Regions from separate parts of the Homo sapiens genome. Here regions 1, 2, 3, 5, 6 and 7 are each linked to region 4. The links come from fine-mapping of genetic effects on gene expression. A gene starts in region 4. Each other region holds a variant in brackets. All regions are shown on one strand. Distances are from middle to middle.

Region 1 (4,308 bases), 73 kb before region 4:
CCTTTGCATCTTTTTATTATGATACCTATTGATGTTTACCCAGAAACCTTAGAATCATTTCGCCAAAATCTATAAAATTCATGATGAGATTTTCACTACGGGTGGATTCTTCTCGGTTTATAGGTGAGGAAACCGAGCTAAAGAGGTGAGATGACCATCCCAGTAGGCAGGGTACGGTACTGAGAATAGAGAGCGGGTTTCCTGGCCAGAGTCCTCTCTCCCTACCACATCACAGGGAGGAGGATGGGCTGATCAGCCCGACTGTCTCCCTCCAGTGCCTCTCCTGGACAGGGACCTATACTCTCCACTGAATTGTTTCTAATCAGTAGTTTTTGGCAATGAGACAGACTGAAAAGCACAGGGTCAGGCAGTGCGGGAAAGGTGGAGCAAGGATCTAAGCAGAGGAGAGTGGGACATGAAGGCATTTTCTAGAGGGAACATGTGCGTGTGGGAGAGACTTTGCCAGCAGTAGCGTTCAGCCTCTTGTCTCCCGCAGGGTTCCGGTGTTCAACATTGTCATTCTCCTGGCTGGTGGATTCCTGAGTAAGAGCCTGGTCTTCTCTGTCCTGTTTGCTGTCACGCTGAGGTCATTTGTACCCTAGGCCCACGAACCCACGAGAATGTCCTCTGACTTCCAGCCACATCCATCTGGCAGTTGTGCCAAGGGAGGAGGGAGGAGGTAAAAGGCAGGGAGTTAATAACATGAATTAAATCTGTAATCACCGGCTATTTCTAAAGTCAGCGTCTCACCTTCCTGCCCACTGCCCTCGTTCCTCTAATAATCTTGGGTGGGCATTTGTGCCTCAGAAAAGAAGTTACAGCCCCAAACATGCTTGGTCCTTCATTCCACCAGCCACTTGGGGTTGGCATGAAATACAGACAGCTCAATGCTTTTCACCGTAATTCTCTTGTGGGGGCTGTGACATGCAGAAGGCACACCTGATACTTCTCCTGCTCAGTTTTGCCCTGGACCATACAATTTTGGCCTGACCTGGACAGAGCTCCCACTACAGAAGCATCCTGCTCGCCCCATGCTGGGACTTCCTCTTTCTAGCATCAGACACTTGGGTTTCATGCTTATGTGTGGTTCTTTCCAACACTCCCAGAAAAGGGTGTTGAAGATTGTGGAACCTGGAGAAATAAGACATCGTGGTGAGAAAGTGCATCCTTCTCAGAGAAAAGAGTTAAACTGAGTATCTTCTTCTGGGGAAATACTGGCAGGCCGAGATGGGATCCATAGGAGAGCAACAACAGACCATGTCAGACATCCTGTGTGCATTTATCGCTGGATCCTGAAAATAGCCCCGTGAAGGCAGAAATGTATGTGACTAGAACGAGGCCACATGAATAAGCCACTGCCCACTGGCAGGAGTGAAAACTGAAGCGCTCCTTACCTGAAGGACCCCAAAACCATATAGAATAGAATAACCAGGAGTTCCGCCTGTGTCTAAATGCCTCTTTTCCTGTATCACACAAGGGTCAGGGATGGTGGAGTAAAAGCTCTCCCCCTGGGAGGCTTCTGGAGGCTGTCCCCATGTGCTTGCCTAGTTCCCCACTCTGCCCTCCTCCTCTTCTCTCAGTCTGCTCCTGGAACACCTGCCTCAGTTTCCATGCTCTCTCCAGTGCCCTCCCCGGTGAAGCAGGTAGGTGTTCAGGCCACCACAGAGACAATCTCTGTGGGAGATTGTCTTGCAATCTCCCACAGATTTCAATCAGGATTTTGTTATTTCCTACTTTGAGCTTTAAAGGGAAATGGGCCTCATGGGTGGGGAAAGGATGGTGGGTCCTTCCAGCCCAATTTAGTGATGCCCAGGGCAGATATTATCCTCAGTTCCCAAGAGCAATCATACTTTTCCACACATACCGTGTGTCTCATGTTAGGTAAATGTATTTTTACAATGAGCACCACTTCTGTGGAAAAAGTTCCCTGCACGGGGAGGTCCAGCTTCCAGACTGCTCCATCGCATAAGGACTTCCCCATTCCCCTAAATGCTGCTCTGTCAGAACCTGCCCAGGTAATGGTAATGACCCTAGAGAGATGATTTCTGAACCGCAATTTTGAGCCCATTAGAAGGTGTGTGGTGGGCATTTATTTCATCCTGATGCTCTGGTGAGAATCTTTGCAGACGCACTAGATCCAGAAGCTGTTAATCTTGGTGCATTTATTTTCCTACCTAAAAGAACCAAGCAGCTCAGAGGCAGTGACTGTACAGGATGCAGTGTTTATAATAATGCTGAGCTTGCTGGTCTGGAACCCCACACTT[T/C]AGCAATCCCAGCATTGTTCCTGTTTATGAAGTTGACAAAGTGACCAGGGCAAGGGGGTATTATCATTAAATACACTCTAGGAGAGGCAGAACACATGAGGGCAATGTTTTTCAGAGGTCTTTAGGCCACCGCATCAGATTCTCCTGGAGCATAAAGCAAATGCTTTATGAGTCCAGGGCCCCTGCAGACCTACTGTATACTAGTATACAGCTCCCTCTTAGTGGATCTCAAGCTTGTTTCCAAAAAGTCATTACACTCCTTACCAAAGCCCATGACACATTCATACAGATTCATCCAGACATAACCCACTGCATGGTCCAGTGCATGCTTGTGTGCTTAACTTATTATAGATCAAGTGTTATTTAAGTCCAACATATTAAACGTGACTGAAATATTATATGCACTAAATCGGAAGACAAATGGCCGTGCTGGATACTCTCCCATTTGCACTTACAGGCCACGCCATGCTCCATCCTCCCCATCCTGCCTGGGAACCTGACCAATGTGGCTAAACCAGCAGGCTCCCTGGCTGCCAGCTTCTGGCTGGTTGAGCCAATGGGAAGCATGAGAGGAGAGCCGAGGGTGGGGAGACAGTCAGATCAGGGTTTCTGTCCTCAGGGCTCCCTCCCTGGCAGGTGGTGGCAGGAGTGGCTGCATTCCCCTCTGAAGGCTCCTTCAAGCCTCTCAGCAAACAGCTCCCATCTCCAAGTCCAGCCACCTGTTCCATCCTCTCCTCTGTAGGCCCAGCAGTGGGAATGACCCACCACTATTGCCAGCCTCAGCATACTGAAGCACCCCTTACTGGATTCCCTAAATTCTATGCACATGTTTATTAAATGCTCCTCAATTACCCAGTTTCAATGAGCCAGCGGTGTCTTGCTGTTATCTTGACTGATACAATAGTGTTGTGTGGCTAACGACACAGGTCTTGGAGGAAAACCATGTATGGGTTTGAATCTAGCTCTGCATCCTTGCAGGGTGTCTGATCCTGGGTGACTCAGTTAACCTTCTGGGCTTCAATATTCCTCCTTGCCTTAATGGGCATGATAGTGCCTAACCATGCCAGTGATGATTTTGGATGCTAACAACAGAATCCAACTCTGGCTATCTAAAACAGCAAGGGAATTCTAGGGGGATATCAGTAACTCAGAGTTGATGAGAGGCTGGGGGATTGGGTTTAGAAAATGGGCAGAAGCCAAGAGAGAATGGACAGCAGAGGCCACATGAGACAGTCTGGACATGTTGCCATCAATGCCACTGCCCTGGATACTGGAGGCCACCATGCTATTCCTAGACTCTGAATCCTTAAATTGCCTCTGAGTAAGTAATCTGCAACTGGCCCTGCATTTGAGCCTCATCCGCAGATCTGGGGTCCTGGGCAGAATCATGCATGTGGCCAGGCTTAGGTCAAGTCACGTGCCTGCAGCACAGCTGCCGGGAGAAGGGTGGGAGGAATAGCTGCTTCCATCCTCAATAGAAGGGGAAGCAGAACTCTGCATCTGGTGAAACTCACACATTGGGGCCTGTGCCCCCAAAAGAAAAAGGTGTTTGGTACTGGAGAGTCAAAAGATGACACACCTCCATTATACCATCTCCCAATGTTGACAGGATCCAAGGAGACGCCTGAGTAAAGCACCTGACACACAGTAGGACTTCAATCCATGGTGGTTACTGCTATTACTGTTATAACTGGGGTCTCCATGCCTGTGCCTGGACAGGTTAGCTCAGGGAAGCCCATACCTGGTACTCAGGCAAAGCCCCTGAGTCACCGAGACATGCTGCAGGGTCCATCTTACCTATATGCAGCTCTTGCAGACATGGTCAACTTGGACTCCTTGCCTCAGAACCACCTAAGCTGTTGCTAAAATACAGATTCCTGGGTCCCTTCCCAGATCTGCCAAGTCAGAATATCTGGTGGTGGAGCCTGGGTGTGTATGTCTGCCACACTTCCTGAGTGAAGCCACGTGCCTGTCCTTGGGAACCATGGTGCGGGGTGATATTAAAGAGGGAGGATGTAGCAGAAAGGCTTGAACCCGGCCTTGG
Region 2 (4,308 bases), 48 kb before region 4:
ATGGGATCTCAAGGCTTTTGAGTCCCCATCCAGGGCCTAGCTTAGCCCTGTGCCCTCCAGGGAATGGGCAGTGAGCCAAAGCTTGGGCAGTGAAGAAAGAGAAGCTTATTGGGGTCCTCCAGATGCCCATTTGACCAAGTGGCTGGGCACACTCAGCAGCAGGGAAAAAGCACCACTGTTTCTAACCATCACAGAAAAAGGCAGGAGAGCTTGGCAACTCTAATTTCAGGGGGAATGCCCAGGGGCCTTAGGATTAGTGGTGACCCCTAGCTTCTCATTTTGAAGCTTAATGACTCTCAACTGATAAGGGCAGGTCCAGGGAGAGGATCCAGGTCCCCTGAGCCCCTGGCTACTACACCTCCCAGCCTCACCCCCTAAGTCTCATGTCAGCCTCATTGTTTGGCTATCTCCTATGTCACATTTATCCCCCCACCCCATTACTCAGTGATCTTTCTTGACTACAGCCCTTTGAGAAGATGCTGGCAGTTAGAGTCAAGGGTAGGGATGTCTGGAATGGACCATTAAGCCCTTTGTGCTCAAGCATGGGGAAACTTTAAACTCATTCCAAATAAATGGAGGAGTCCTGTTAGTAGCAGCAAAAATGTTAAGGGCGATACGTACGATGTGGAAGGAAGAACCAAAAGCCAGCAGGCCTGCATTCTGGGGCTGGCTCTGCCCTTCAGCAGCAGGTGACCTTAGGCCAGGGGCTTTTCTTCTCCATGTCCCCAGTTTTCAGTGATGAGAAGGTGGAAGGAGAAGATTTCTAGGATCCTCTCCAGCTCTAACACCTTGTGATTCAGGAAGTCTGAGACCCACAAATACGAAGGGACAGAACTCACCTTGAGATACCACCAGGCAGATGATTCTGACAATAGAGATCTCAGGGGATTTAGAGATTCCACACCCATGGAATCCCAAGGCCTCTACTCTGAGCTCAGTCATGGTGACGGTGAAGACGCCATAGAAGCGATCATCTTGGATGAAGTATCGAGGGTCCCAGGCCGCTGTCCTGGGACTGTCCCCTACTATGGCACATGTATTGGCTGATATTTTCCCGCACCAGCTTTCCACCTGTAAATGTTGGGAGGGCTAGTACTGGTGTTTTACAGAGGTTGCCTCGCCCTCCAGGCTGGGAAGCAACTCTGTCCACTGTGCTCACAATGGCCTCCATGCCCATGCTCATACCCTCCCTAGACCATCCTCGACAAGTGGCCACTACATACTTAAAAATAAGCTGTGACACACCTCTCTTAGCTCTCCAGTAGCTTCCTCTTGTACTTAGAATCACCCAAACTTCATCTCATAGGCTTCAGGGCTGCTTGACTCCCAGCCTCATCAATCACTGTCCTGCACTCAATATGGAGTTACTAAATAAGCATTTTTTTCTTTGCTTTTTATTTTTTTTTGAGACAGGGTCTCACTCTGCTGCCCAGGTTGGAGTGCAATGGTGCAATCTTGGCTCACTGCAACCTCTGCCTCCCAGGTTCAAGCAATTCTCCTGCATCAGCCTCCCAAGTATCTGGGATTACAAGTACATGCCACCACACTCAGCTAATTTTTGTATTTTTAGTAGAGACAGGGTTTCAACCATGTTGGCCAGGCTGGTCTCAAACTTCGGACCTCAGGTGATCCACCTGCCTCAGCCTCCCAAAATGCTGGGATTACAGGCGTGAGCCATTGCACCTAGCCAAATAAGTCTTTCTTGTACAAGCCAAGCACCTTCTGACCTCAGGACCTTTGCACATGCAGCCCTTGCCACAAAGTGCCCTTCAAAGCACCCAGATTTCAACAGAGCTGGAGAATGCTCACCATTCAGGGGTCTGCTTGGTGTCATCTGCTCAGGGAGGTGTTTTCTGATCCTCAGTATTTCCACAGCTCCCGCATTACTGAGTTAACTTTCCTGTTTACAAGTGTTGTTTTTTCTTACAAAAATTTGTTATTTGCAATTATTATAGAGCAAGATTGTGTCTGTTTTTGCTCACTACTGTCTCCTTAGAGCCTAGAATAGTGCCTGCCACATAATACGGGCTCAGTGAATTATGTTGAAGCAATGAGTGAATAAAACACAGCACAGACAGTGCCAAGTTTGAACTTTATCTCAGCCACCTGCTAGCTCTGGGACCCCGGACAAGCTCAGAGTCACACTGGGTTTTCAGGTCTCATTATCTTCATCTGTAAAATGGTGACAATAGTGCCACGAATAGTGCCATAAAGGCACTTTGAAAACACTACAGTGCAACATGACCATTGATGGATTATTATCCTTATTATCTCTGATGTTAGTGGAGTGTGGGGCAGGGAGGACTCCCTCCACCCGTCCCAGTGCCCCTGCAGCCCGCTCACCTGGAGACACATCCAGCTGGAAGCCCATCAAGGGGTACAGGATCCCAGAGGT[G/A]TTGCGCATGCACCAGTATCGGCCTGAGTCCTGGAGCTTGAGGGCCACCATGGTGATGTTGACCACCTTGGCCTGGGCGTCGTCCTGCAGCAAGTAGCGGGGCCCTTTCACCCAGACTTGGGTGAAACCAGGCTCACACTTCTTCCTGATTTTGCACCAAACCTTGCCCTCCATGCGGTTTTTGTAGCCCTTACAGAAGCACTGCACAGACAGAGTCCCCCTTTCAAGGAGCCTCACTTTTGTGTATGCGCTCCCAGCAGAGGGGCCTGTGGAGACAAGACTTGTTGAATAAGGTCTGGCAAGAGGAGAGGAAGAAGACATCATGAAAGTTGAAGATCATGGTGAAGGGCGGGGTGGATATTGTCCTGCTGTCATGGAACCCACAGATTGAGGGGGAAATACAGCCCCACCCTCAGGGAGCTTGCCCCAGTCTGAAGGGAGGTAAATGGGCCCTGAAAACAGCTAGCTCCCAGTATTAGGGGGCAGACAGAGGTCCCCCTCTCAGGGAGCTTTCAGTCTGATGGAGGAGGCAGGTATATCCCACAGTGAGCCCCCAGTCTAATGGAGGAAATGCAGCACTTACACTTGGAGCTCCATCAGACACAGCCCCTTTCCTCATGGTATTTTCTAGTCTGATGGGAGAGTGACATTCTTGTGGGAAAAACCCAGTGAGAAAGATGCAGAGACACAAACACAGGTCATTAAGTTCTGAAATTTCAGTGCCCAACTAATTAGGTAGATAAGAAAATCCAGTGTTTGAAAAAATGATTAATAGTTATTTATTTCACAAATAGGTTCACTGTAGTCCTCTTTAAATAATAACCTACCTTAGTTCATTCTAGCTGGTGTTTAGTTTTAAAGTATTCTAGTTACATAAAACCCATAGATCAAGCCTGTCCAAATGTACATGTAAACAAACTCCCAATGGAGTATGAACCACAGGATTCTACAATTATTCACTTTCCACCTGCAATATCTTTCTCTCTATGCTGAGGAGTAAGATGTGGTCCAAGCCTTCATAATCCACAGTCTGGTAGAGAGAGAGCAGAACTGGGGTGTGCAAGGTGACTCAGGGGACAGAGAGAGGGAGAAAGCTGCCGTGGGCTCCCTCCACCCCTCTGCCTGCCCTAAGCTCAGCTGACTCTTCTGATAATTTCACCCCAGAGTCTCCCACAAAACCACACATAAAAAGACTCTCCCCCATAGTACAGAATAGAGAGCACACATTTTGGATCAAAATAAACACGGGTCAAAACCTTGTTTCTACCACTTAACGGTGTGATCGGGGCACCTAAAATCTCTGTCTTTGCATCAGTCAAGTGAGAATAGCACCACATCCCTCACAGGTTGCTGTGAGAATTCTGCCCCAGGTCAGTGCTTTTCACACAGTGCGTGCTCAATGCATGCTGTATTTTCCCACACGCTGGGGGCTCCCAGATCCTCCAGTGGAACCCAGAGCTGTGATAGTCAAGGGCCCAGAACCCAGGACATCTGTCCAGTTGCCAGCAGCCACTAGAGCTGAGGCTCTGCGTGAGGCAGCACCCTCTCTGAGCATCACTCTGTTCTTTGTAAACTAAGCAGAATGATCCAACTCCATTGCATGGTGGATGAGCCCAGAATTTCTTAGCACAGGAGAGACCCTTTTTTGCTGTGGCAGAGGGAGGAACCTCTCTGACCCTGGGAGGTGCAGAGTTGGGTGACTTTGGGATGGGTCTCCAGGGCACTGTGTTCATGTGTGCCTACACCTCCCACCCCTTTCACAGGCAGTAGGGAGTGAGTTTTGCCAACCCCCACCATGCCCAGTGGTCTCTGGTAAAGAGCTACGAAGTCAGCCCCAACCTCTTCCTCACTGAACCCACAAAAAACTAAACAAGACAATTGGGCCAGAAAAGCAAGAAGGGTGGTTTTTGATA
Region 3 (4,308 bases), 86 kb after region 4:
GGTACAGAGTTCTGAATAAAAAGGTTTTTAAAAACTAAAAATTTTGGGGGAGAGGGAGTAAAGAGGGAATATTATTGATTGTTCCAGGCTCGGGGAAGTAAATGAATGGTGAAGTACACAAAGAAAAAAAGAACAAAGAAGATCTGGGTTAGTGACCTATTGCTATTCTCTTCCTGTAGGAGAAAAGGATGTTCATTGAAGAACTAGCTAAGAGCTAAACATAAAAGCTAAATCTCTCAGACACTAAACACTCCTTTTGTGTGTCTTATTCCAGCATGCCAGTACTAGCAGCATCTTTTTTTCCAATTTCATGTAATCAAAAACTTATTGTTCTGTAAGAGATGAGAATGAAACTATCACACAATGATACTCACATACATCTTCTGTGGCCAAGATATTCATATATCTTCCCTGGGTTGGAGATGTTTTTCATCATTTTCTCTGGGAGTTTCTTGAAGTTGTAAGCAGGTAGCATGGATCTTAGATATGTTACCTCATCACAGGACACCAAACCTGGATAAGCAGTTATCATTCTGGCCGCAAGACTCACTTTTGGGCCAATAACTGTGTCAGAAAGACAGGTGGAGAATTTTTGGGCCATGTCTTCCACCTTCCTCCCTTAAGTCACAAAGATAACAGTCCAATGTCCTATTCTACCTGTATATTCGTGTCTTGCTACTGCTCCAACCACGCCACAGAATACTGGTCCATTAGTGATACTGATGGAAACAAATCTAGGGATCTGAAAAGCAACAATGGATAAACATACAGTCAGAAGCCTCCAAGTCAGGCACTAGATCTGCCACTCCCCAGATCCAGAAGTCTAGTTTTAGAGCTTAGAATGGAAAAGGCCAGAGGTTGCTGTCAGTCTATATAACATGAGGGCTACAAAGTACTGAATATTAGGGAGAGAACCAAAAGAAACAGAATGGTTCCCCTAATTCAGGAGTTTTAGTTTTAGTTGGGGGTTATTAGTAAACGATTTTCTTTCTTTTTTTTTCTTTTGAGATAGGGTCTTGCTCTATTGCCCAGGCTGGAGCACATTGGTGTGATCTCAGTTCACTGCAATCTCCGTTTCCTGGGCTCAAGTGATCCTCCCACCTCAGCCTCCCAAGTAGCTGAGACTACAGGCACACACCACCATATCCAACTAATTTTTTTTTTTTTTTTTTTTTGAGAGAGATGGGGTTTCATTATGTTGTCCAGGCTGGTCTCAAACTCCTGGGCTCAAGCAATACACCCGTCTTGGCCTCCCAAAGCACTGGTATTACAGGTGTGAGCCACCACACCTGGCCAGTAAAAGATTTTTAAAAATTTTACATCTGGGCCAGGTGCGGTGCTCACGCCTATAATCCCAGCACTTTGGGAGGCTGAGGTGGGTGGATCACAAGGTCAGGAGATCGAGACCATCCTGGCTAACACTGTGAAACCCTGTCTCTACTAAAAATACAAAAAATTAGCCAGGCATGGTGGTGGGCGCCTGTAGTCCCAGCTACTCGGGAGGCTGAGGCAGGAGAATGGCATGAACCCAGGAGGCGGACCTTGCAGTGAGTGGAAATTGTGCCACTGCACTCCAGCCTGGGCAACAGAGTGAGACTCCATCTCAAAAAAAAAAAAAAAATTTTACATCTGTGGTAAGGCAAATATTTAAAAACCATTTGAGAAAAAAAAATTGAAGGGGTTAATTAACTTTCCCAGAGTTATATAGCAAAAACGAACAGTAAGTCAGAATGAGAATCCAGGCCTCTTGCCTCCTAGACTGATATTATTTCTACTATACCATGTTGTCTCAGATAAAACTGAAAAATGAAAGTAGATAAAGAGATATCAATACAGGATTAATAGATCAAATAATGCTAGAATGTCACAGTTAAGGAGTGATCAGAATGTCAGGACTGCAGACAGAAGGCTTTCTGAAGTAAATTAACATTTGGAACAAATTTTTTTTAATGAGTAATATTTTAAAAATTCATTAATGCATACATACATTCATTTCATTCACTAAGCACTGAGAAGTGTGCATAGTACTGAGTACTTGGCTGGATGTTTAAAATATCCTGCCCTAGAGAAGTTAAGTTTGGGGAGGAGGGTGGTAGGTTTGAGGGAGGGGAAGAGATACTTATATATGTCAGCAAGACAAATACTCCATATTAGAGATTGATATAGCACATTAGCAGAGCAAACAGAACAGATGCACTAATTCACACTGAAGAGTAGATAGAGTATTCTTAAAGGAGAGGACATTTGGTCGGACCCTGAAAGCTGAAGAAATTGCTAAAGTGGGGGAGTGGTACTGTCTGGTGGGAAAAGGTAAAGGCTTTGAGATGCCTTGTGTGGTCATGCAAAACTAAGTACTTCAAGACGGCTAGAGCACAGATGTGAAGAGAGGTGTTTGGATTAGAGAGAGGTAATGGGAGAAGTAGTCT[C/T]ACCTCTCTAGGGATGGAAGAGTATTAGACATATGAATTATTTTAAAAGAGGACATATACTGTTCTAGGTGAGGCAAAAGCCCAAAGGTGGCAAGGAGCAACTCATACATAACAAAATAAGTAGATTTACTCACTGACATGAAAATTTCATGTGACAGGTAACAAGATATGTAGGTGGAGAAAGATTATGCAATGAGGCATAGTCACATTAAATCTATAAACAATTTTCAGTGGTTCAGACAACATGAGAAGTAGCAATCATGTTAACACTATTACCTCCTAAGCCATCAAAATTATTTGTCTTCCTCAAAGGACAGGATTAAGGGCTCTTGGCTGGGTGCTGTGGCTCATGCCTGTAATCCTAGCACTTTGGGAGGCTGAGGTGGGCGGATCACCTGAGGTCAGGAGTTCAAGAGTCCAGCCTGGCCAACATGGTGAAACCCCATCCCTACTAAAAATACAAAAATTAGTGGGCATGGTGGTGTGTGCCTGTAATCCCAGTTGAGGGATTCTGAGGCAGGAGAATCTCTAGAACCCGGGAGGCAGAAGTTGCAGTGAGCCAAGATTGTGCCACTGCACTCCAGCCTGAGCAACAGAGTGAGACTCCGTCTCAAAAAAAAAAAAAAAAAAAAAAAAAAAAAAAGTCTCTTACCATTCATTCACTCAGCTCACTGCCCCCAGGGTGAAAAAAAGAGACACTTAAGACAAGACCATGCTGTCAGTTCTGCTGCCATATGAAGAGCAAGACTGAAAATCTTTTAAAATTTCATGATGCTTCCTCTGCCTAAATACCCTTTCCCACCTTCTCCATTTGCTGAACTACTTTTCTTCTCAACCTGTCTCAAAAGTCATCTTTATAGTCAAGATTTCTTTGGTACCTCTGTGGAGAATTAACCACTTCTTCCCATAGCACATTGTTGTAACTCCTGTAGCATTTTATTTCTGCACTTTAATTTCGTTGTATTAAAGTTAGTTGTTTACTTAGCTGAACTGGTAAAATCTTATTTCTCTTTATGTCCATAGCACCTAGCACAGTGCCTGGCTCATAACTGTGTTCAAGGAATGCTTGTTGAATGAATGCATTTATGCATGCCAGAAATTCAGCTATTAGCAAGTCAATAATGAACAAATAATACTTTTATCACTTAGTTATTTCTTATTTCTTTCTATTATACTTTATAATTCCTCCTTGTTTTTCCCGGCAATCCATATTCCTTCTTTCCTTTAAAACCTTTCTGCATTGATAAAGAATGTACTCTTTATTTGATATATGTCATTGTATATAAAGTATTTCTGGTACTGAAAAACCATAATAATGATATTCTGAGACTGCACTCCCTATGTCTCAAAAATATCCTGAAGAAATATGCATGGAATCATCTTTCCTCTAAATGAGCTAAAAGCTGGAGCTATTTCTCAGATTAGGAAGAGGAATTCAGAGGATATCTCAAGGTGAACAGGGTCTTTGAAAAAGAAGGCATGGAAAGTAGTTTTGGGTCTGAGAGCTCATGTAATGCAGAGAGAAATGAGCAATGGTATCTGCTACCGAGGCCACGTAGGTACCTCTGAAGCTTTAGCATCTGCTCAGCATTTCCAAAAATATCTTCCTTAGAACATTAGTTCCTCTGGATGTTTATAGGTCTTTCTGGAGAAAAGTGTTTGATGACCAAGTAAATTTGGGAAATGCTGACTAAAACTAAATATAACAAATTTCTTTCCCATAGCACTACTCAGAACCTTTGATATGTTAATGTTCATTGTGAACCTTGAAGAAGGAAATATAATTTGCATCACTTCCCAAACATATTTGGTGATGAAAATCTTTTCTTTTTTCATGAGCATATTAAGGGAGTAATAACATTCTACCAAACACACTTTGGGA
Region 4 (4,308 bases):
AAATCAACATAAAGTGCTTCACTTTTCCATTCTGGAAAGAGAGAAATGACAGGAAAAAACCCCACCAGATCAGTGTTTGTCTGGGACTGAAGGGATGACTAACAAGGAGCAGAGGAAAGCTTTTCGGGATGATGGCACTCTTCTCTGTCTCCATTACGGCATTGGATACAAGTCTCTAGAACTCCCAGAACTCGTCACTGAAAAGGGTGAATAGTACTGTATGTAAATTAGGCCTTAATTTTTAAATGGGAAAAATAAATATAAAGACAAAATACACTGCTGTATTAAATCAAATGATAGATGTAAAAGTCTAATGTATACGTATTTTTAATGATTTTGACCAATGCTTCCAAATTTCTCTTAAGAAAGATTGAATCCAGTGCATACTTCCTCGATCAGCGAATGAATGTTTGATTCTTTCTACCCTCATCAGCACAGTGATCCCAAGGGTCACACTTTAGACGATGATTGGCTCAGTGCTGGGCGCACTGTATCAGTTTCATAGAATCATGGATTCCAAGCGCATAAAGTCCCCACAAGAGATAAATCCCCCACTCCTGAAGCAACTTACTGTTCTGATGGGGGAAGGGATGGAGGAACTTACTGTGTGTGCTGGGGAGGGGAGATGGCCCCTGAACTCAGGGAGCTCAGGAAGTTCTGAGGACTGGGTGAGAAACATTGAAAAAGGAAGGGTGAATAAGGAAAACAAAACACGTCTGTGAGCTGAGAGGTCTCAAGTGACAATCGTGTCTCATTCCTACGCCCCCAGTGCCTACCTAGCCCCATGCATAGCAATGAGGTTGTGGGAATGAACAAATGAATGAATGAATTAATGAGTGAGTGAATGAGTTGAGAGACTACAAAAGCTTAGGGTCAGCCGAGATAGACTTCTTTGCTTGGAGCTTGGGGCTTCAAGGTCAATTTAAGATTGTGGCCATGCAAGCTTGAGGACTTTTTGCTCTGAGTCCTGTTAAAATTAATGAAAATGGAGACCAGGCCTGAAGAGTCCCTGAGCAAAAATTAAAAAAACAGTTAGGCCTCATAAGTGACCTCAACTTTGCTTGATTTGCAAATATCAGTGAAACTTAACACGAGCTATTTCTTGTAAATGTGTATATTAAGGAAAAATAGAACTTAAGCTCAACCAATCAAAAGAAACTTATATAATTAACTAGGGTCTTTCCAACAGGATAGGCCAAATAAGGGAACTATATAACTATAACTAATTAAATATTTTCTTCAGTTTACTTGTCCTGTAGGAGTCTTCCCCTTGCATTCCCCCAGTGGAGCTCCTCAACCTCTTCTGTTTGGAGCTGCCTGATTCATGAATTGTTGTTTGCTGAAATAATCTGTTTAAAATTTTATTGTGCCTCAGTTTACCTTTTGACAGTCCCATCTAAGGAGTAGAAACATGGCACTAGTGAGTAGGGGGAGCATACATAATCACGGGAGTCCAGCTGGGTCCCCACACACTGAAGGAGCAGATGACACAGGTACCGGACATCAAAAATTGATGCTTCTGATTCTAGGCCTTGGGGTAAGTGAAGGGTGTGGTCTTGGGCCTAGTGCTGGGTCATTTCCACTGGAGCTGGTGGCTGTACAGGCGAGATAGCATTGAGCAGGAGGAAGTGGAGGGCACTTGCCTGCGTGCTGACGTAGGCTGGAGGCAGGGGAGGAAGGGGGTCTTGAGATGAGGTGGGTGAGGGGAAGTACTGCGGAGGCTGTAGGAAGCCTGCACGAGGGACTAGGAGTCTAGAGGGAGCTGATGGTGAGTAGAGTCGACAGGAGGAGAGGCAGGGAGAGGGACAGAGAGAGGAGACGTATGGATAGGGAAAAGGAGAGGCTGCTGGGGTGTGTGTGAGACTGTGTGCATGGGCGTGTGTGTGTGTGTGTGAAAGTGAATAAAAGACAAAGTGAGACTGTGAGTGTGAGTGCATGTGCATGCACACCTGTGTGTGAGAGTACAGGAACCCCTCCCTCAACCCAAAATTTATGCCCTGAGTCTTAACAATTTGCATTTTTCCCGCTTGACAAAAGTAAGATTTCAAGTGAGCCTGTAAGAGGTTATTTGCAACAGTGAACACAAGTGACTGTTCTGAGCAGCCAGGAGCCTGGGAGAGAGAGAGAGGAAGGAACAGAAAGAATCTGCAATGAATGAATGAATGAGAGTTTATAAGAACTTCCCTGTGAATGTATATATGTAAGAAACTAGGGTCTGAGATGCTCCATCTCAGCCTAAGAGCCCGCACCCCTGGGTCTCTGAGCCCAGAAGATTCCAGGAAGGTCTATACCTGACGTTCCAGAAGCCTCACCCCAGCCCCCTTGCTGGATCCTAGGGACCAGTTTCTGGGGGAGGTTGGGGAGGGCGGGGAGCCCTCTGACTGTGAGTCCTCCCGGCTTGGGGCCCCAGACTGGGTGGAGCAGCCACACCTGCCTGAAGTTCCGAGGAAAAGGGCGGAAACAGCTGCCAGCACCGCCCTCATAATAGGCTCAATGAATCCCTGCGGTTGGCTGGGGGCAGTGGGTCCCACACTGCCTCACTTCCCTAAATGGGCAGCTTCACTTTTAGAACCCCGGGTCCTTCCCTGGCAGGCCCAGGTGGCACATCCTGTGTCGGGTGGGCCCTCACCTTGGATCTCCAGGCCTGACACTGCCCAGCTGGATGGAACCATGGCCCCAGCCTTCCTGCTGCTGCTGCTGCTGTGGCCACAGGGTTGCGTCTCAGGTGAGGGGAGAAGGGGCTGACTTGTGGAGGAGGGAGTGGGTACAGAGGCAGGAGCTCAGGGCCTTTTTCTTACCCTCCTTACCAGCAGTTTTCTTGTTTAGTGTTTTGTGGGTTGGGGAAGGAGGAGATTAGGGCTGACTTAGCTCTTTACCCTAATATCAGGCCCCAGGCGAAGCTAACCCAGGCCTCCCAAGCCAAGATAAAGCTCTGGACCCTCTCTGCATTGGCTCCTTTATCTGCTAGGCTTCCTCAGGCTTTAAAGCAGAGCCCTCAATTTCCTCACACAAATAGCTTTCTCTGCTTGGCCTCTGTCAGGAAGCCCTGCTTAGTTATGACAGCAATCATTGCATCATGTGTGTTTTGAACTGAATTTGAACATTTTTCTTGAAATGCTGATGCCACATCCTGTCCCTGCCTCTGTCCTGAAGGGACCAGTGTGTGAATGCCTTTCCCACCTCACAGATACCAATGCTCCTTGAGGAACCTCACCCATTCCTGCCCCTCTCGCTGCCATGGCAACCAAGTTACCACTTCCTGTTCAGTTCTGGGCATGGTGGGGGTTGGCAAAACTCACCACTGCCTGTGAGAGGGGTGGGAGGTGTAGGCACACATGAAGACATTGCCCTGGAGACCCATCCCAAGGTCACCCAACTCTGCACCTCCCAGAGGGTAGAGAAACAGCTTCCCACTGCCAGGGCAGAAAGGGGTCTCTCTTGTGCTAAGAAATCCTGGGCTCATCCACCAAATAATGAAGTTGGATCATTCTGTTTAGTTTGCAAGGGACAGAGGGATGCTTAGAGAGGGTGCTGCTTCACACAGAGCCTCAGCTCTAGTGGCTGCTGGCTGGGACTTGGGACGGATATCCTGGATTCTGGTGGGACAGATGTCCTGGATTCTGGGCCCTTGACTGTCACAGCTCTGGGTTCCATTGGGGGAACTGGGAGGCCCCAGCATGTGGGAAAAGGAAGCATGAGTTGAGCATGCACTGTGTGCAAAGCACTGACCTGGGGCAGAATTCTCACAGCAACCTGTGAGGGGTGTGGTGCTATTCTCACTTGACTGATAAAGAAACAGAGATATTTCTGTATCAGTCAAGTGTCTGTTTTGATATTTCTGTATCAAACAGGTGACCTAATCACACCACTAAGTGGTAGAAACAGGGTTTCAACCCTTGTTTATTTTGACTCCAAAATGTGTGCTCTCTGTTCTCTACTATGGGGGAGAGTCTTTTTATATGTGGTTTTTTTGGAAGACTCTGGGGTGAAATTATCAGAAGAGTCAGCTGAGCTTAAGGCAGGCAGAGGGGTGGAGGGAGCCCAAGGCAGCTTTCTCCCTCTCTCTGTCCCCTGAGTCACCCTGCACACCCCAGTTCTGCTCTGTCTCTACCAGACTGTGGATTATGAAGGCTTGGACCACATCTTACTCCTCAGCATAGAGAGAAAGATATTGCAGGTGGAAAGTGAATAATTGTAGAATCCTGTGGTTCACACTCCATTGGGAGTTTGTTTACATGTATATTTAGACAGGCTTGATCTATGGGTTTTATGTAACTAGAATATTTTAAAACTAAACACCAGATGGAA
Region 5 (4,308 bases), 110 kb before region 4:
GTGAAATAATGTGGTATTTGGCATTTGGGGGATTACTGTTGTGCGTACTTTTTGGAGCATGTTATAGAAGATGTAAGAGGTTGCAGTAATAAGTGGGGACATTGGTTGGGGGTAGATGGCCTGGGAACACTTTACTCTGGCTCCTATGTGTGGTAATTAATTCAGACTCATGCTAGCTGAACATCGCCATATGCCACACACTGGCATGGACACAACCTTACCCCTAGAACTGGCCATGCCATATAGGTCTTTTTGACCTCAAACCAACTTTGGGAGTGTCCAAAAGGGTCCCTGGAATATCTCAAAAGAATTTATCTTCTCTTCTTGTAAAAACAGACATGTTAAACTAGTGAGGCTTATTTGATATGTTAAATTGCATGAGAAGCAATGTCAAATAATGGGTGATGCTAAACCTTCTTTAAGTTATGTTTGTTATTGATGAGTGTTCCAGAAATTATGTCAAATTCCTAGAAATCTGATATGTACTAGTATAATGTTATCATCCATAATTTTAATTATTATGTTAAAATGTCGTATGTTACCAAAGCAACCAAACTCCCTTGTCAGTTGCATGACACAGAATTGTAAGAGATTCATGATAAAGGCTGATGAGTACAGGTTTCTGATAATTTTAAGCTCATACTATAAGGCTAGGTAAGAATTTCCAGACCTCTAATGGAAAAGTAATGTATTTATAAATCTGCTAACCCAAGATCAAGCAAAACAAAAATTAATTATGTGAGACTAAATTAACTGATGAGAATAATTATAATTTTTATAACTTTTCGTTTGAAACATTGCTGGTTCTTTAATGTCTTGCTTTCTAGATTTAGGAAAACTTTTTTCTATAACTTAAAACAATTTGATAAAATATACTTTTGTAAACAAAAAGAAAACGTTTTTTTCCTCCCTACCTGATCACCCCATAATTTGGAAGCACTTATTGAATATTCTTATTTTCATGGCAATATAGGTATTTGCATAGGTTCAATAAGAATCTGTTCTTATAACAAGACATAATTGGGTAAGTCCTTAACTTGGCCTCCTAGCCTAGAGAGGTTTTTAAAGGTCTAATCTGAGATTCCTTGTTAACAAATAGTAAAACAAACAATAAAATGAACAAATAACTAAGATTGACTTATACAAAGTCAATAAAGCCCCTTGGATATTATCAAAACTTTGACAAAATGATGTATTTTAAAAATATGCATACATAGAATCACTTTTCTTGTTGCACTTATGTAAATAATCAGATCAAGTTTAATGAGACTACTGATTTTGCACAAAAAGAAGAGTTAACCATGATTATTTTTGGAAAAATTTGGAATGACCATAAAAAAGATTGTATTTCAATAGAAAACTATAGCACCCATCATCAAATTCTGGTCTTTGTTATGTCCTTGTAAATTGGATTGAATCCTAACATTTTCTAGTTTCACTAGAAACTAAAACTGCTTTTTTCCGAAGCCCTGCCAGCTGAAATTGGATGACTTTAAATTCAGAAAAATTACTACAACAGACCATGTATGGAAAATTTTCATGCTGCTGCTGTGTGGGTCACTTGGAGAATTCACTGGAACACCTGATGATATTTCCAGAGACATTCAAACTGCAAGCCAGGAAAATCCATCAGGTTGCAATTGCCATCCTCATTCCATCATCTAAAAATGCTTCAAACTCAAATTTAGAAATCTTGACAGGCTGCTCTCTGGACTTAAAGACTAAGATCATAATTTGTTCCTAATGTTAACCTTTTTTTTTTCTTTTGTTTTTATAGAATGCTACCTTGAATTCCCTTCAAGCAATACTATCTGAAATAAACAATTTAACCTCAATAGTACTCCAAAATAGAAGTCCTTGATACCTTAGCAACTTAACAAGGAGGCTCTTATTTGTAAAAAAAAATATTGTTTCTATATTAATAAATTAGAAATTGTTGAGCCCAATTTAAAGGATCTTAAGGAACAAATATGTCTTTTATCAGACAGGTGTTGCCTCCTCCACTGATTTATTTTATTGGTGAAATATTGGCTCCTGGGAATCTGTGCTCCAGGGAATTTAAAAATCCTTGGCTATTATTCTCTCTGTAGTCATTTTGTTTACCATCCTACTATATCTTATCCTCTCAAGGATTTCAAAGCTTTCCAGAAGGCACTCACACATCAAATGATTGCCATCATCATTAATTGACTTGAAGAACTCAACAACCCTACCACTGAAGCCCATGATGCAGGTAATGATGCCATGTAATCTTATATCCCAATACAACTGTTGAGGATAAGATTACATGACTCTTTGTTCCAGTGACTATTTCACTAGTGGTAACTGAGAGGAATGCTACCACCTTCTTCTTAGCTTGCTGAGAGGGTGACCCAACGCGGTGGGATTGTTAAAGTAAATTAAAATGGAGACCAGACCTGAAGAATCCCAGAGGGGACAAAAGAAGTTATGATTTGTAAGTGACCTAAACCTTGCTTGATTTGCAAACATAACCAAACTTAACTTGAGCTATTTCTTGTGAATGCCTATATATATCTATATCTATAT[A/C]TATATTTTTAAAAGCAGAACTTAAGCTCAACCAATCAGAAGTTACTATTTATACAAACTTAGATAACGAGGGGCTTTCCAAGTTGAGAGACCAAAAAAAGCAATTGTATAACAGTAACCAATTAAATACTTTGCTTTACTTCTGTGTCTGTCTTATAAAAGTCTCCTCTTTGTGTTCCTCAGTGGAGCTCCCAAACTATTTCTGGTTCGGAGCTGCTCAGTTCATAAATTGTTCATGCTAAAAAAAACTCACCAAAACTCTTTAAAATTTTACTGTGCCTCAGTTTATCTTTTTAACAGTTCAAAAAAGATTAAAATAAATGATAATTATATTCTGTCCTGGAGAAGTAGGGAAAAAGTCATTCTTATGCATTGTTGGAAGGGAATAATTGATAGCCTTTTCTTGGAGAGCAGTGGTGTAATGAATTAAAAGTCAGAACAAGAAAAAACAAACAAACAAAAGCACATGTTTTGGAACCAGCATTTCTAAGTTTTGTTTTTTTTTTTCTCAGCAAGTATTTTGTTGAGCATCTTCCTAAAAAGTCATGCCTGCAGCCTTTTTTTGCCCTGTATGGATGCACTGCCTCCACCAGTTGGTACACAGCTGTCTCTTCCTCATGTTTCTGGGGCTTCTCTTTGTCTCCTCTACAACGTTTTCTTGATTCTTGGATCTTTGTTTACTCCTTTGTACTGGTGGAACCCATCCTTGAGTAACTACGGGAGAAAGGGGGAATGGAAAATACATTTTGACAACTTTTATATTTAAAAATGCCTGTTTTACCATGACAGTTTGACTGATATAAAAAATTCTGAGTTGGAAACAATTTGTCCTCAGGATTTTGAAGGCATTGCTATGTTACCTTCTTGCTCCTATTGTTGTTGAAAAGTCAGGAGCAATTATGATAACTATGGCAATATGTGATCTGTTGTCTTCACTTTATCAGCGTTTTCTTTTTGTTCTCGGTGTCCTGGAATGTCACAGGGATGAGCCTTGGAGTGTGTCTATTTCCATCCCTTTGCTCCGCACAGTGAGTGGCCTTTTCGATCTAGAAATTCACAGGAAAATTTCTTGAATTAGTTCATGCATGATTTTCCCCTCTCTGTTTTCTATGTTCTGTCTTTCTAGAACTCCTTTTATTCAAGCATTCACCTCCTGGATCAGTTGTCTTTTTCTTTTTTTTTCTCTCCCATTTCTCTGTTGTTCTCATTCTCTCTCTGCCTCCCTCTGTTTTGGAAACAGCCCTTGGAGAAAAAGTTTTCTGTTTTTATTTATGGTTCCTTAGGTGGTCTCTGTTTCTTCCCAGTTGCCTTCACTATTCTCTGTTTAGTTTCTTTCTTCTCTTTCACTTGAGAGCTTTTTCTCAGGCCTGGGTAACAAAATTCTAAAGATAATTGGATGCTGTGAGCCCACAGTGGGGCTGGTGCCCTGGGAGTTTCACAGGAGGGTGACTCCTTGGCCATTTGCTTGAGGAAGTGCCTTGTCAATATCATTCAGCCTTCTCTCTTGGGCTGCTCAGGATCCCCAGGGAAGACTCACCCCATCTCTTGTCTGGAGGAAGAAGATCTGGCTGCCAACTTTCTGGAATCCAAATAGGAGAAGAGGGCTGGAGTGTTTCTCAGCTTCTGGTACATGTTCTTCACATAATCCCATGGTTTTCAGGACATTGTCACCATCCTCACCTATACCTATTGCCCACCCCTTCCCTACCACACACAGAAACCCAGCCTTCTTTGCAACCTCTCTAAGGCATTCATTCCCAG
Region 6 (4,308 bases), 42 kb after region 4:
TCTCCCCCGCCCTAAGGAGGGTTCCCAAAATAGCAGCCTCATGTCTCCCCCAAAATATCTCCGAGACGGGTCCTTCCTGAAAGGGGAACAAAGCCACAGAAATAGGGAAGCTGGAAGTTAAAGGTCAGGAAAGTCGGTACCAATGTGGGCGGCTGCAGAGCAAGCAAGAGTGGCGGGGCAGGGAGAGCCAGCCCCAGGCCGAGAGGAGAGGTCCCAGTCCCAAATGATGGCAAAGAGATGTGCAGAACAGAACTGGAGGGGGTTTTAAGACCAAGTGCCTCCAGAATAGACCCAGAGAAGGTCAGTTACTTCTCCAAGGAGGCCCAGCAAGAGCAACAGTGAGAAAACCAAACCCAGGTCCCAGGTTTCCTGGTTCCCAATTTCCCACAAACACATGCTGTGCCATCCGCTCCCAACTTGTATAAGAACCTAAGCTCCTTCAGGGCAGGATTTTTGTCTGTTTAGGTCACTGCACAGAGCAAGTGTTCAAAGCGTATTTGGTAAACAAAGGAGTGAATGAATGTCTCCTCCCCAGAGCTGTCCGGAGCCCACAACACCACAGTGTTCCAGGGCGTGGCGGGCCAGTCCCTGCAGGTGTCTTGCCCCTATGACTCCATGAAGCACTGGGGGAGGCGCAAGGCCTGGTGCCGCCAGCTGGGAGAGAAGGGCCCATGCCAGCGTGTGGTCAGCACGCACAACTTGTGGCTGCTGTCCTTCCTGAGGAGGTGGAATGGGAGCACAGCCATCACAGACGATACCCTGGGTGGCACTCTCACCATTACGCTGCGGAATCTACAACCCCATGATGCGGGTCTCTACCAGTGCCAGAGCCTCCATGGCAGTGAGGCTGACACCCTCAGGAAGGTCCTGGTGGAGGTGCTGGCAGGTGAGTGGGCAGTGGCTGCCTCTCTGGCCTGCCCCTGTTCCAGGCCTCATGTTTTGGGCGTCTGTGTGCAGAACCACCCACTGGGCTCTCAGGGATCCTGGGAAAACCCATCGTATGGTCTCATCTCCCTACTCAGGGCTACCAAGGATAGTTGTGCAGGTTGCTCACTATACAAGGGGGCCAAAATCCAGCCCGGACTCCTTTTGCCAGACTGTGTTCCCTGGTGCAGAGCTGCATCACCTGCAAGAAGGGCACCTTTCTCTACTTTGCATTAAGGCACTCTGTGAACTAGCCTGGCCTTGGCCCTCCTTGCCCAAACAGCTTTATCCATCTCCATCCAGTTAGCATGTGAACATGATAGGAGGTCCTTAAGGAGGAGGAGATTAATTTATTCCCTCACCAACCAACCAATGGCCCTATCAACGTAAGTGAAGCACCAACCTGGTGCAGAAAATCACCCCTAGAAAGGAACACTGCTTGTGCTGGGCAATGTGCTTCACTTCTCTGGGCCTCCATTCTCTCATCTGTAAATGGAGAGGGTGGTGTCTGTCCTGCTGACCCCATAGGGTTCCTGTGAGTTTTTATTTGGCGGGGGGCGTTGGGGGCAGGGTGTGACATGTGCTCCAAGCCTCCTGCTACTGAACTGTCTTGGGATCGTCATTCCAGGTGTGAGTAGGTGGGCCAGGGTGTCTCCTTTCCACCCCCGAGCTCTGCGCAGGGACCACCCTCCAGGAAGGCCTTCTGCTTGAGTCTGCAGAACACAACTGTGTCCCCAAAGGAGAACAAATCTGGGGCTACAAAGGCCTTTTCTGACTCTCCTCCTT[T/C]CCAACCCCTTCTCCCAGTATGGCTCTTTACCATGGAAATGAGGTCAGGAGTAGTATTTGCCTGACTTGGGGAGGCCAGGGGAGACTGCCAGTCATAGACACAAACCCCACCTCCACCACTTTCCTAAGGATGGCCGGTGGCAGTGAACTCCCTTAGCCACCTCCCAAGAGGGAGACAGAAAAATAAAAGTAGCCCATAGCTTGTGTAGACAGCTTGACAGTTTAGATAGGATTTTCAAGTACATCCACGATTGTATTTGCTCTTCTTAGCCCCTGTGCGGAAGGAGGGGGGCATTGCAGTTACTGAGCTCCGATGAGGTGCTGGATACGGCACAGAGGTGCCCTCACGGAATCCTGGCAACCCTGCTATTAAGGAAGTGTTCCTAACGGCCCACTTTATAAGTGGGGAAACTGAGGCTTATGGAGTGTAATGACCTGATCCACATAGGACCAGTGCCCAGGGGACCTCACCCCACCCATAAAGGTTCTCCCGCCAAGGTTCTCCCCCTGCCTCGAGGAGGAAGGGGCTGGAGGCTCATGGCTCTGCCTCCCATAGACCCCCTGGATCACCGGGATGCTGGAGATCTCTGGTTCCCCGGGGAGTCTGAGAGCTTCGAGGATGCCCATGTGGAGCACAGCATCTCCAGGTACAGCGATGGGTCTTTCCTAAAACCCGTGGGCAGACTTCCACCCTGCAGAGCCCCACGGGGGTGGGGGCTGGGCATCCTGAACTACAAATTACAAGGCAACTAGAGCCTGAAGGGCCCTGGATATCTCTTATGTAAACACCCCTCCACCAGCTGCTACATGTTAGTTAGTTAGCGTGACTGTGTCAGTTGTTCATTTATTGGAAGACTTCCATAATGCTTTGTAAAGAGCAGTTGCTCTACGACTCCTGAATATCAGCTCCCGCCCCTCCCCTGGCAGCCCCCAGACATCCCCATAATTCAGCAACAATGAATGTTTTAGTACTTTAGTACAAAGCTAAGACCCCCAGATCTCTGCTTCATTGGTAGGACCAGAATCAGTTCTGACTGGTCCATGCCTGTGTACTGGTGTTTAAACGTTGTTCATATAACCACATGTGTGTACACACACACACCCATGGCATAGCACTGTATACAGAAGAAAACTGCTCAGTGAGGGAAGGTGGTGTGTTTAAGTGCACTCAGCAGGTTAGTGGCAGAGCATGCCTAGAACTCAAGTCTCTTGACTATGGGCTCCCAAAGCTCCAAAAAGGCCCATCCCAGGGATGGTGCTGGGTGGGATTTGCTGAGGTCCTAGAAGCTCCTGGTTTCTCCCCATTCCCTGAGAGAAGATTCTAATCTGTAGGCCATCTCAAGGCTCCCATCTGCCTTCTTGTCTCTCCAAGGAGCCTCTTGGAAGGAGAAATCCCCTTCCCACCCACTTCCATCCTTCTCCTCCTGGCCTGCATCTTTCTCATCAAGATTCTAGCAGCCAGCGCCCTCTGGGCTGCAGCCTGGCATGGACAGAAGCCAGGGACACATCCACCCAGTGAACTGGACTGTGGCCATGACCCAGGGTATCAGCTCCAAACTCTGCCAGGTGGGCTTGGAGAGCACAGCCATCAAGGGTGGACTGGGCAGGGATGGGAGGCGGTGCCGAGAGGGGCCACATGAGTCCTTGGACTATTGCAGGGCTGAGAGACACGTGAAGGAAGATGATGGGAGGAAAAGCCCAGGAGAAGTCCCACCAGGGACCAGCCCAGCCTGCATACTTGCCACTTGGCCACCAGGACTCCTTGTTCTGCTCTGGCAAGAGACTACTCTGCCTGAACACTGCTTCTCCTGGACCCTGGAAGCAGGGACTGGTTGAGGGAGTGGGGAGGTGGTAAGAACACCTGACAACTTCTGAATATTGGACATTTTAAACACTTACAAATAAATCCAAGACTGTCATATTTAGCTGGATAGTTTTGGGCATCATGAAAGTCTCATTTTCTTCCACAGGGGTAAGAAAATGAATTTGGATGAGAAAAAGACAAGAGATTTTGCTCCTTGAGGCCCAGGACCATAGGATACCACATCCCTCCATTCTCACAGGCTCAATCAGCCAGTCAGTTTTTTTCTTCTCTCTCTTCCCTTCCCTAGATCTGATCGCCAAGTTCTGCCTCCTCCTCTGGGGTTTCTCTAGCACCCAGTCTTCCTCTGCTCTCCTCCCCAGCATTCACCCTCTCCATCAGCTTCCCCTGGATTATGGAACCTCCCTGCCCCAAGGCCCCCTCCAGCTGACTCAGTTCTTCCCCACCAAGGTCAACTCCTGGCAGACTCATCCATTCATCTCCTTAGAACTCTGTTTTCATCATATCATTTCCCCTTCGGAGAAATGACAAGGGCTTGATAATGTACAGCATTATCAAACTGGGAACTGATGGTTCAAGCCCCTCATCATATAGAAGGGAAACTGAGGCTCAACAAGGGAAAGGAACTTACCCAAAATCCCCACCCAAAATCCCCAGTAGAGCCTGGAAATCCAAATTTCACTTGGCATTCAAGGTGCTCTTTCCTCTGACTCACTCCTACTTATTTGTTCAACAAGTATTAGTTTGAGCAACCAGTCTGTGGCGAGTACTATTCT
Region 7 (4,308 bases), 27 kb after region 4:
TCTCACTCACATCTCCCAACCAAATCTCTCCTCGAGCCAGTTTTTCCTGGCTCTTTAATCCTTTGCCCGCCTACTGATAGGTCATTAGTGTCTCCACTGAGAAGACATGTTTCCTCAGCCAGAACCAGAATTCGATAAGTTGGGGCTGAGTCAGGTGAAAGAGTGGATTCTCCATGTCTCTTTGATCCCTGATATTCTAGGTCTTGTGTTTTAGGAGTTGTGATATTTGAGGCTGTGGTGATGGTTTGGAGATCCAAGGCATGAGATTGACTAAAGATGGGTTTGTTACACAACAGTAGCCTTGTAACACAAAAGCAGTGAATCAAGAGCGAAGGCGAGTAAGCTCACTGTATCTGTTAAAGGATTGAGACTCGCTTCTCAGTGTTTCACAAAACATTGATTTTCCAAGAGATATTAATAAGTGTTATGTGAACTTACTAGGACCATGCTACTAATATATTTTCTCCAAATATTTTTAATGTAAGGAAAAATAAGCCATGTTTATTACAATTTGCAAGAACCAACTTTTAGAAACTCTTTTAATATCTACTAATAACAGGATAATTAAATAAATTGCTATATCCACACCAGGGAATCCCACGTAGACATTATAAAGAATGAAGTAAGCCTGTATTTGTTGATATGGAAAGATGTCCCCGATATATTAAATGGGAAAAATGACAGCCCTAAAATAAGCTTGTGTGTGTGTGTGTGAGTATGTGTGCACGCACATGTATGTACAAACACAGAAAAAAGTCTAGATGACTAAGCACCAAAATATTAGTAGTAGTGATTCCCTCTGGGGAATGGGATTATAAGAGTGGAAGAAAATTCCACTCTTAATAAAATTGTTAACAAGTCTGGCTCTGGAGTCGGACTACCTAGGTTTAAACCTAAGTTCCACCTTTTACTAGTTGGGTGATCCTGGACAAGTTATTTAACATCCCTGAGTCTCAGTTATCTGGAAAAATAATATTACCTGCCTCATAGGTAATGATGTAATACATTACTCATTAATGTGTTAATACAATATGCATTACAATATTGATTAACATACTATATTGATATATTAACATCAATATAATACATTGATTTATAATGATGCTGTAAATACTTTATGTAAAATGTTTAGAACAATGCCTATCACATGGTAAGCACTCAATAAATGTTAGTGTTTTCAGTGGGGAAGTTATGGACAACTTTTACCTTTTCAGAGTGAATTTTTATGTATTTTTCACAGAAAAAGTCATTAAATATGGTTTTTAAAAGATTTTGAAAATGCTTAACATATTTTATATAGTTAATAGTGTTAAATTAAGTTTAGCCTAAAGTTGCCTCCTTGCATATTTTAAGTCTGGCCTAAAAGTTTCAGTACATAGTGGATTGTAACGTAACTGGATGTGTAAAGAGGCTGTAACCTGCTCTTGTGCCAATCACCAAGTTTCCTTCAAACAAAGGTGGCCAATTATGTTCAAATAAAGCAAATGCCAAGCTGTAAGAAACCCAGCTGCTTCTGTATTTCACTTCTGTTTTCCGTATGTCATTTTCATTTTTCTACCCATAAATCTTCTTCAGCCATGTGATAGGATTGGAGCCTCTCTGACCTATTCTGATTTTGGGGGATACCTGATTTGTGAGTCATTTTTTTGCTCAATAAAACTCTGTTAAATTTAATTTGTCTAAGGTTTTTCTTTTAACAATAGATATAATCCCCTTTGAAGCTGTGTCCCTCCTAAGTATGGCAGGTAACCCTGGGAGAAATTGCCCGTTACTAGAAGGTACGTTGTTTTGACTGCATAAGAAGTACTTACCTCCCAGCACTTTGGGAGGCTGAGATGGGTGGATCACGAGGTCAGGAGTTCGAGACCAGCCTGGCCAACATGGTGAAACCCAATCTCTACTAAAAATACAAAAATTAGTTGGGCATGGTGGTGGGCACCTGTAATCCCAGCTGCTTGGGAGGCTGAGGCAGGAGAATTGTTTGAACCTGGGATGCGGAGGATGCTGAGATCGTGCCATTGCACTCCAGTCTGGGCAACAGGG[C/T]GAGACCTGGGTGACAGGGCGAGACTCCATCTCAAAAAAAAAAAAAAAAAAATGGAAGTACTTACCAAGTAACTATTGATATCATTGATGTATGTCTTCTCCTTAGTAAGTGCTATTATGCCTTGAGTCATAATTTTAACACATAGGTCTTTTAAAATTAGTTAATATTTCTAAGCTGACATTTTAAAAATTCTGCTTAAAAGTATTGGAGAATCAAATTTTGTAGTAACTGATTTGTCTTAAGGACTATTTTTGCTTTCTACTCTAATCCAGGCATAGGTTATAACTCCAGAGCTCCTGTTGATGTTGTGAAATTTAGAACAGTTTTAAAAGAGTTTCATGGTTAAATAATATTAGGATGCACTTTGGTTTCAGGATGTATTTTCTTGTTTGATCCCGAGCTGCCCAGTGTGCTGTGGGTGTAAAGGGAAGAACTTGTGACCTAGCTTAGATGAGGACATTCCAGGGAAACAGTGCCCCACCATCTATGGGGTCCACCAGTGCTGTTCCATTAGTGGGAATCGAACCCTCTGATACAGGAGGTAGAAAAAAGCTATTTAGCATTTTTTCATGTGTCTGTTGGCTGCAAAAATGTCGTCTTTTGAGAAGTGTCTGTTCATATCCTTTGCCCACTTTTTGTTGGGGTTGACTGATTTTTTTCTTGTAAATTTGTTTAAGTTCTTTGTAGATTCTGGATATTAGCCCTTTGTCAGATGGGTAGATTGTAAAAATTTTCTCCCATTCTGTAGGTTGCCTGCTCACTCTGATGGTAGTTTCTTTTGCTGTGCAGAAGCTCTTTAGTTTAATTAGATCCCATTTGTCAATTTTGGCTTTTCAGTGATGTGCAAATCAAAACCACAATGAGATACCATCTCACACCAGTTAGAATGGCGATCATTAAAAAGTCAGGAAACATGCCGGGTGTGGTGGCTCACGCCTGTAATCCCAGCACTTTGGGAGGCCAAGACGGGTGGATCACGAAGTCAGGAGATCGAGACCATCCTGGCTAACATGGTGAAACCCCGTCTCTACTAAAAACACACACACACACACACACAAAAATTAGCCGGGCATGGCGGCGGGTGCCTGTAGTCCCAGCTACTCGGGAGGCTGAGGCAGGAGAATGCTGTGAACCCAGGAGGCGGAGCTTGCAGTGAGCGGAGATCACACCTCCAGCCTGGGTGACAGAGCGAGACTCTGTCTCAAAAAAAAAAAAAAAAAAAAAAAAGGCAGGAAACAACAGGTGCTGGAGAGGATGTGGAGAAATAGGAACACTTTTACACTGTTGGTGGGACTGTAAACTAATTCAACCATAGTGGAAGATAGTGTGGCAATTCCTCAAGGATCTAGAACTAGAAATACCATTTGACCCAGCCATCCCATTACTGGGTATATACCCAAAGGATTATAAATCATGCTGCTATAAAGACACATGCATACGTATGTTTATTGCGGCACTATTCACAATAGCAAAGACTGGGAACCAACCCAAATGTCCATCAACGATAGACTGGATTAAGAAAATGTGGCACATATACACTATGGAATACTATGCAACCATAAAAAAGGATGAGTTCATGTCCTTTGTAGGGACATGGATGAAGCTGGAAACCATCATTCTGAGCAAACTATCACAAGGACAAAAAACCAAACACCACATGTTCTCACTCATAGGTGGGAATTGAACAATGAGAACACTTGGACACAGGGTGGGGAACATCACACACTGGGGCCTGTCGTGGGTTGGGGGGAGGGGGGAGGGATAGCATTAGGTGATATGCCTAATGTAAATGACGAGTTAATGGGTGCAGCACACCAACATGGTATATGTATACATATGTAACAAACCTGCATGTTGTGCACACATACTCTAGAACTGAAAGTATAATAATAAAAAAAAATAAAAGAAAAAGAGAAAAACTATTTAGGCAGTTAGTGAGGGCAAAGAGTCCTCGGCTGAACTTCACTTCTAACAAAAAGCAACCCAAGAAATCACTTCTTTTCTAACAAAGAGCAGCCTGGAAGATTGGGCTGCAAACATAGATAAGGAAGCTGGAAGCTTCCACAAGGGGGATGGCTGCAGCTGCACAGATAAAAAGGGCTACCTGGGGCCAGGCATGGTCACCATGGGGGTTCTACCTCACCTTTTTTTAAGCACATGCAAAGTAAGAAAGAAATAAACAACTTGGAGTAGCCAGGCTATGGACCCACCTGCATAATAAAGGATTGGGGTGGGGGCTGGCAGAGATCCGTGCCCTATGCAGA

Which allele goes with the higher level. Positions count from the first base shown, and alleles are read on the strand shown. Sizes are in standard deviations (SD) of each study's normalised expression. Not every link is listed here.
With allele C in place of A in region 5, the expression in B cells of the gene that starts at base 2,530 in region 4 is lower (moderate effect, 0.51 SD a copy in Schmiedel 2018).

What was found. PIP is the estimated chance that this variant, and not a neighbour inherited with it, causes the effect.
Region 1: its variant is fine-mapped to the expression of TREML2 in whole blood (TOPMed, PIP above 0.99).
Region 2: its variant is fine-mapped to the expression of TREML2 in whole blood (TOPMed, PIP above 0.99).
Region 3: its variant is fine-mapped to the expression of TREML2 in whole blood (TOPMed, PIP above 0.99).
Region 5: its variant is fine-mapped to the expression of TREML2 in B cells (Schmiedel 2018, PIP 0.95).
Region 6: its variant is fine-mapped to the expression of TREML2 in whole blood (TOPMed, PIP 0.95).
Region 7: its variant is fine-mapped to the expression of TREML2 in blood mononuclear cells (TOPMed, PIP 0.97).

What each region holds. Positions count from the first base shown.
Region 1 is chr6:41,272,419-41,276,726 of GRCh38, reverse strand. TREM1 (triggering receptor expressed on myeloid cells 1) reads left to right here. Exons shown (of 4, transcript NM_018643.5): 4 at 497-3,122. The coding sequence ends at 602. Among named protein-coding and RNA genes, the nearest start is that of TREM1, 12 kb to the left of the region's middle. The variant T/C (reference allele first, on the strand shown) is at 2,265.
Region 2 is chr6:41,247,686-41,251,993 of GRCh38, reverse strand. It overlaps the pseudogene TREML5P. Among named protein-coding and RNA genes, the nearest start is that of TREML4, 21 kb to the right of the region's middle. The variant G/A (reference allele first, on the strand shown) is at 2,396.
Region 3 is chr6:41,113,732-41,118,039 of GRCh38, reverse strand. It overlaps the pseudogene ADCY10P1. Among named protein-coding and RNA genes, the nearest start is that of TREML1, 38 kb to the left of the region's middle. The variant C/T (reference allele first, on the strand shown) is at 2,427.
Region 4 is chr6:41,199,371-41,203,678 of GRCh38, reverse strand. TREML2 (triggering receptor expressed on myeloid cells like 2) reads left to right here and starts at 2,530. Exons shown (of 5, transcript NM_024807.4): 1 at 2,530-2,725. The coding sequence starts at 2,671. RefSeq lists an enhancer at 2,242-2,311.
Region 5 is chr6:41,313,694-41,318,001 of GRCh38, reverse strand. No RefSeq gene overlaps it. Among named protein-coding and RNA genes, the nearest start is that of NCR2, 20 kb to the left of the region's middle. The variant A/C (reference allele first, on the strand shown) is at 2,548.
Region 6 is chr6:41,157,841-41,162,148 of GRCh38, reverse strand. It overlaps TREM2 (triggering receptor expressed on myeloid cells 2), which reads left to right. Exons shown (of 5, transcript NM_018965.4): 2 at 536-886; 3 at 2,267-2,357; 4 at 3,083-3,276; 5 at 3,369-3,641. The coding sequence ends at 3,385. Among named protein-coding and RNA genes, the nearest start is that of TREM2, 3.1 kb to the left of the region's middle. The variant T/C (reference allele first, on the strand shown) is at 1,711.
Region 7 is chr6:41,171,980-41,176,287 of GRCh38, reverse strand. No RefSeq gene overlaps it. Among named protein-coding and RNA genes, the nearest start is that of TREM2, 11 kb to the right of the region's middle. RefSeq lists a silencer at 1,401-1,520. The variant C/T (reference allele first, on the strand shown) is at 2,044.